Homo sapiens: one gene and its partner. The protein of the gene in region 1 interacts with the protein of each later gene in a pairwise test. Each region holds a gene or a part of one and is shown on either strand. Other genes may lie near its edges.

Region 1 (3,748 bases):
CATTCTTAATTTCTGTGGAAGGCCTAGTGTTTCCTTCTTAGAGATATTTTATCATGTCAAAGGAAGTCTCTAATCATCCTCATTATTCAGATGAGAAACTGAGATGCAGAGATCAATGAAGACCTTGGCTCAAGATCACACGGTTGGTAGATGGCAAGCGGCAAGGCTAGGGGCTGTCTGGCTTCAAAATCCCCAGTCTTTGCATCACATCTAATTTTCCCTAGTTTTCATGGAAAACTGACCCCACCCCCTGTCTTCCATTTCCCAACATGGAACTCACATTTTAAGAGATCTTAAGAGGTTTAAGAGTGGCCGAGTGTGGTGTATGAGAGGGGCATGGAAAGAGGCCCTGAGTGCCACACCCTAGTCTCCCTCTGTTTTCTTTAGCAGTTCTCTTGCTTTCCAGACACATTCAACTTCCAGAAACCACCTTTCTTAGAAAGCAGCTTAGTGACTGGCTGGGCACGGTGGCTCACGCCTGTGATCCCAATACTTTGGCAGGCCAAGGCTGGTGGATCACCTGAGGTCAGGAGTTTGAGACCAGCCTGGCCAACATGGTGAAACCCTGTCTCTACTAAAAATACAAAAAAAAAAAAAATAGCTGGATATGGTGGTGGGCACCTGTAATCCCAGCTACTTGGGAGGCTGAGGCAGGAGAATCGCTTAAACCCGGGAGGCGGAGGTTGCAGTGAGCCGAGATTGCGCCACAACCTGGGCAACAGAGTGAGACTCCATATCAAAAAATAAATAAATAAAAATAAATAAAGAGGCTTAGTGGCCACCTGTATTATATGAACAAGACCCTTGGGAAGCAGGCTCATGCCTCCTTCTCCCCCTCTCCCATCAAAATATTTCTTCCAATCATATACCTCACTCTTCCTAAGAGGAATGAATCTCTCTAACGGACTTTTCTCTGGTAGCTACATTTCTAACCATACTGTAGTGTCCCTTATAGCTTGGCTGACAAAGAAACCGCCCCACTGGCCTGCTCTGACCAAACAAATTGCACTGATTAAGAAACAGGCTGAGTGACTTTTTCTTGGGGAAATGTGTTCAGGCCTTTGCAGATTATGATTCTGCCCCCATCACCTACTTTCCAGGGATACCAGGTTGTAAATCATGAACAACAAACCCTGTTGCCTTTATTTATTCTCAGTGGAGAAGGATTAGTTCTTGTTTTTTTTTTCTAAAAAGAGAGCCTTCTAGGACCACAAGTTCTGTGGGAGAAACCTGGCCCAGATCTGGATTGCCTGAGTTTCCAGCATGTTCTTCAAGTAGGCAGATTCCCTGAGTATGGGCTGTCTCTGTGCAAGGGACAGAAAGACGGGCTGTGAACAGCAGGAAAAATAGTCAAATCAGGTCCATTTTAAACTCTAATCCTTTGCCTTTCAACAATTTTGATTTCCCATTTTCTCCAGCTGACAGCCTTATCCTTTGGAGGTATAAGCTGCAGTTTTCTCCCATGGAGACCTAGACAAATGTCCTGGCTCCTTAATTTAGAACCTCTGCGCTCCCCTTTCTTCCTCAGGCAGCTTCATTCTCCCCCTGGCTTCAGCTGTTCCTTTTGTTTTGACACCTGGTCTCTGAGGGCTGCTCCTCTGACCCCACTCTCCTTTCATCTGCAGCTCCGAGGCACAAGGCTGCCTTATTCCAAGCTTGTGTTTGGCCTATTTGAGGATGAAAGGGCCTGATGTTGCCATCAGAGCCTATTGTCAGCATCGTTCATTTGGTAAGAAAAGTCAGGAGCACAGAGCAAGGCTGGAGAGGGAAATGGCCCAGGTCTTCCTCAGCCTCTGTAGTTGCCACCTGGGGTTTTTCTGTCCGTTTTCACCACTTAGCGAGGCTTGGAGGTTCTAACACAGCTGAGGAGTGGGAGGAGAGAGGTTTGGAATTGAAACAGAACTTCATATGCATGAACCCTAACTAGGACCAGCTATATAATTTGCGGATCCCAGTGCAAAATGTGGGGCCCCATGTTCAAAGAGCAGGAACAAAGTGCGATTTAAGTTACTCAAATATAATGCTTTTTCCTTTCTTCTGTCATGTTTCAACTTGTTATGGTAATTTTTATCTGCTATTTAATTTCCACTCCCTGGGGAATGGGGATGCTCATGCAGACCTTTATAGGCATCCAGAGGCCTCGCTCCATGATTCTGGGCATGTGCATACCCCACCAATGGCTGCGGTACCTTTCTTACCGGCCATTGGACCGATGTACCATGTCCTGCTGGTGGGGTGGGGTGATAACCCCCAAGAATATTACGACCTCAGTGCCACCTGTAGGTACCTGGGTTGGGGGTGAGCAAGAGGCTTGTCCTCTCCCTCCAGTTGCTGCCACCCAGGGGCTTGGAGCAGGTGTCAGAAGGGGCTCCCAGGGGCAGAGAGGTGGGCCAAGAACCTGTTGTAGGGAGACAGAGGGAGGTAGGACCATTCAAGAGCCCCTGGTCCATACTCCATTGTCCCACAAGACTTCACTTTTAAAACACAAATTCAAAGATAAAACTATTGGCTGGGCACGGTGCCTCATACCTATAATCCAAGCCCTTTGGGAGGCCAAGGCAAGAGGATCTCTTGAGGCCAGGAGCTTGAGGTTGCAGTGATCTCTGATGGCATCGCTGCACTCCAGTGCAGCATCCTATGAGACTTCACTGGTGGTGCACCCATGGAGCCAACCCTGGCCCCAAACTTACATAGTGATATAAGGATGAGGAAGATTCCCCCCTCCCCAGGACGGCCTTCCTGATTCTGCCATGGTGTGAGCCCTCCTGGCACCCTAGTTTCGTGTTGCTTTCCATGATGTGACTCTCTGCACAGTGACAGCAATTGTTTCCCTCCTCCTGGCTCCTCTTCCTGGCTTTTCTGAAAACCTGTCTTTGTCTCCTCTGGGTGGGGGTGAGACAGGCTGTGGGGAGATTCCAGGGGACAGGGGACCCCCACTCCCCAGAATGGCCCCAGGAGCTTTCTGTGCTAGCTGGGGTGGTGATGGCAGGGAGGAGAGCCTGTCTCCTTTCCAACTCTTCTCCCCCTCTGAAAGCAAGAGGAAATGTTGTTTCCCAAACATTTATGGAAATTGTTGCCTGCTCTGACCTTCCCCACTGCTTGCTCCAGCCTGATCCAAGAAAGTGCCACCAAAATGGACATCCCCACCGTGCTATTGAGTGACTGAGGTCTCTCTTGGATTCTCTGTTTGGGGCCCAGGCTAAGGAGGTCGAATTTCTCTCTAGGTGCCAACTTGGGGCTCAGTTGCTGAGAGCTTGCTCTGAGGCCTCAGGCCCTGCATGGGCCCTGAGGAGTCACAGAGGGTTGCCATGGAACTGAGCTGCAGGACCAGGAGGAGTTCTGTGGACAAGGGGGGGAAGAGGCAGCTGCAGGTGGAGAAACAGGAGGGGTAAGGAGTGCTGTGAGGAGCACGGAACACCAGAGCCCAGAGTCTGGAAAGGTGGGCATGAAGCCCCAGCCAGAGTGGCCTAAGTGAGGGCAGAGGGAGAGAGCTCTGGATTTCTGGGGCCCAGGACCGCAGAGTGGCTGCCTCTGACCCCAAGTGAGATGAAGGCAGCGTGTTGTGGAAGGACTGGGCTGGGAGGTGGCCTTTCCTCTAGGCCTGGAAAGGGGTGGGGGCCTGGTGGGGGCCTCCTGCAGCTCCACGAGGCCAGATTCACTGAAAAAATCAGGAGCATTTCTCAATTATGGAGTTTTCTTTTGTTCTTCTTGATGGAATAGAGTTTAATATGGCTGAAAGGCTGGGCTG
Region 2 (3,748 bases), on another chromosome or scaffold:
ATGTACCCTAGAACTTAAAGTATAATAAAAAAAAAAAGATAAAAAAATAAAATGAGTGGGCCAGCCGGGAGCGGTGGCTCATGCCTGTAATCCCAGCACTTTGGGAGGCCCGGGGCAGGCAGATCACCTGAGGTCAGGAGTTCGAGACCAGCCTGACCAACATGGAGAAACCCCGTGTCTACTAAAAATACAAAATTAGCTGGGCATGGTGGCGCACACCTGTAATCCCAGCTACTCGGGATGCTGAGACAGAAGAATCGCTTGAACCCGGGAGGTGGAGGTTGCGGTGAGCCGAGATCGCGCCACTGCACTCCAGCCTGGGCAACAAGAGTGAAACTGTGTCTCAAAAAAAAAAAAAAAAAAAAGAGCAGGCCTCCTTTTCCTTTAACAAAATAAGCCTCAGATCTGTCAGAGAAGAGAATAATGTAAACAGCTTCTAGGGGACAGAACCATGTGGGGACATCAGAATACAGTCTGCCCTGACAAGCTGCTATTACATATTTATCCCTTTAATGCCTATGGGCCTCAAATTATAATACTATTAGTAATAGTTAACACTTACTAAACTCTTACTGTATACCAGAGGCAATTCCAGACACCATGCAAGTTTTACCTCCCCAAAGCTCCATGAGTTCTACACCTTCCTCAAATTGACAATGCTAGAAAGTGCCTAGATTTGAAGTCTAGCTGTGGAGCGCCACACGCTTAGCCAGCTGGGCCAGTAATGATGTCAGCAATGGCCAATCCCTGTGGGGTCTGACAATTCTCAAAGTGTATCCACACATAGGGTTGAGGGGATGTAGATGAAACAAAATTGGCCATGAGTTAACAAATGTGGAATCTGGTGACAGGTCCGTGGCAGTTCACTGAATAGCTCTACTAGGTAGGTTTAAAATTTGTCCCTACGAAAAAATTAAAAATAAAATTAAACGCCTGATATCCAGAACTCACCATATGCCGGAAGTGATTTGGATTGTTAACTAGAAGCCGTCAGAGTTCCCCACCAGACCTAACCCTTCACAGCCCCAAACCAGATGTTTGGCCCTAACATGTGAGGGAAAAGCAGTCCAGGAAAGGAGTCAGCCAGACGGGCCACCCAGATGACGACCAAACCCAGGAACTTTGCCACAAAGCACAGGGGGCACCTCCCACATGACACACCTTGAGACAACAGGTCCCAGAGAAAAGACCTGCCCCCATTCAAAAGAGCTGCCTAGATGCCTGTCAGAGTGATACAGCCCACCACTATCAGAGGACGAAACCTCCCTCACCTCCCTAAAAACCCCAGGGACTCCTGACCCAAGACACTCGCCCAGGCCCTCTCAGGATATTTTGACCACGTCAAGCTCACCTCCACTTCCAACCCCCCAACCCCTAATAAACCAAGGTCCATCAAGCATCAAGGCCTGAGACGGCCTCCCCCTAACCACCCCGGTCACCACTCGGGACATATCCAGCCCCACCCAAAAAACAGAAAAACTCGGTGATGCAGGACTCAAGACGCTCCCCAGCCAAAAACCACCCAGGGATGTGCGGACCTAGCCACGTCCCCACCCCAGCCGCGGGGATGTTGGTCCATTTGGCCCTGGCAGAACTCAACCCCACAGCCCAAATAAACCCCAGGACGCACGACTGGGGCCGCCCTCCGTATTCGAAAACTGGTTGACCCAGAATAATCCCGCCTGGTTCAAGACAGGCATTAGAGTTCTAGGTCACTCTCGTCCCCCCGGGGGGAAAAAAGGTCCGCGGAGGTCCGGGCAAGCAGGGGCTCACCCCATCGCCTCGCCCCAATGAGCACCGCGAGCTGCGCCCTCTCCTCCAAAAACCAAATATCTCCAACCCGCACTCCCCATTGGCCACACTCTACCCCGCGTCCTAACCTACGCTCGGCCTTTCCCGACCCTCCTTTCCCCACGAGAGAGGGCATCCTGGGGCCAAGGAGCCGCGGAGGCCGCGCTCACCAGAGCCAGCGTGCCCGGGATCTCGGCCACCGACCGACGCCAGAACTACAATTCCCAACATCCTCGCAGGCTTCGGCTCCCATTGGCCGCCACAGAGCCACTTCTGGGCCGTGCAACGGTTACTTTTCCAGGACAGTGACCACTGCAGTGACAGCCTCTCCGTCTCTTCTTAAAATACCCATGTTGAAAACAGGTTCTGGCTCCCGAGTGAAGTCTCTGTCCCCTTGGCCCATTCTGCAAAAAAAAGACTACACTCCCCACAAGCCTCTGCGGCAGCTTCCGCAGGCGCTTCCGGAAGCTGGGGTCAACGAGAGAAGTCATTTCCGATTGGCGAATCTAGCGGGAGCAATGCGCTGTCTGTCAGGCGTGTGTTGGGTACAGAGTTTACTGCACCGGACCACCTGAATTCCCTGGGCTGAGGCTCCATAGCACGCGAACTACCTTGCGTGAGCACTATGTAGATTCGACTTCGTGTTGCCTGTGACACACAGGCAGGGCAAAGCCGCCTCCCAGCGTCTCAGTTGAACCCTTACCCTCAACACCAGTGCACTCCTGTGGGTGGCCTGTAGTCACCTTTCTTGTCGAAGTCCTCAAAGTTAGGGACAGACTCTCATCCAGTTTCTGGAGGGTGGAAGCTTCACTCAGGCTGGAGTCTGGCTCTCTGGCCTCTTATCTAAGATCCCGGTTCAGATCTGGGCTACTAGAGCCGGGCGTGGTGGCGCGCGCCTGGGATTCCTGTAACCCCGAGGGAGGCTGAGGCTGAGGCTGGAGGATGGCTTGAGCCCAGGAGTTAAATGTATATATTTTAAAACTAATAATATTTTTAAAACTGGGCTACGCTGGTACCTTCTGCAACACGGCAATTAGGGGTTTGCAGATCAGACCTTCAGCTCATAGGAGGCGCGTTTAAATCTTAATGGCAAATACAAATTGAATTAAATTTTACTTGTTACTGAAGGGGAAATAAACCTGACCTCACGCCCTTGGAGTATTTCCATGAGAAATCTATGTATAAGTGCTCCTTTGATATGTACCTGATACTTTTGAAAGGCTGAATAAGCACCTGCCAACTTTACAAAAGAGGAATGTTTCCCCCAAAGGCCTGATGAGCCATCTCTTTGAAATGTAAACAGTGAAGAAGATAGTGCCCTTATCTCCCTGTCACCTTGGGAGTTTAGCTTAGGTGCCTAGCTCCAAACTCGTAACTGCCCGCTTGTCACAGATAAAAGTTTTATTTTTTCTTTTTGATAAAGGCAATTAACTAGTGTAGATGGCTACTCCAATTACCAGGTGAATTTAGAATGAATTATGAAAAATTGTATAGCAAACAATGTCAAATCCTCTTACAAGGGGGCAAATTACCATTAATTTTGAGGACATGTTTGTAATAGATTGTATCTGCCCAACTAGATAAAAAGTAAGATCTCTTTCTGTCTGGCATCTGATTAGCAGATTGTCTACAATGTGCTTCCCAGTCCAGTTCAATATTATTTGGTAATAAAACTGTTCTCCTTCTTTTCTACGTTTGTGAAGGGGATTTTCTGGGTTAGCAGGAGATTTTGTTTTTATTTTCTCCAACACCTCCTTCCATCTTCTTATTTCTTTTCACCTTCCCAATATCAGCCTTCTGAGGCTTCTCTGTTCTCCAGTACTCAGGAGATAGAGAACATGGCCCCAAGGCCGTTGTGAGCCAGGAGACAGACAAACATTTCTTGATATTCTGTCCTGCCTTTCACAGAAAGGACCAATTCCCTTCTCTTGTCTTGGAGGCTGCCGTGTTAGTACTG

Evidence for each region. The genes of interacting proteins can lie anywhere in the genome.
Region 2: the proteins of BFSP2 (region 1) and ZNF343 interact in binary tests that used the Homo sapiens proteins (3 or more experiments, as listed by UniProt).

What each region holds. Positions count from the first base shown.
Region 1 is NC_000003.12:133,402,967-133,406,714, reverse strand, and holds part of BFSP2 (phakinin), read right to left. Parts: intron 1-3,748.
Region 2 is NC_000020.11:2,506,920-2,510,667, forward strand, and holds the start of ZNF343 (zinc finger protein 343), read right to left. Parts: upstream 1,997-3,748; 5' UTR 1,962-1,996; exon of another isoform or gene 1,881-1,961; intron 1-1,880. UniProt on the Homo sapiens protein: May be involved in transcriptional regulation.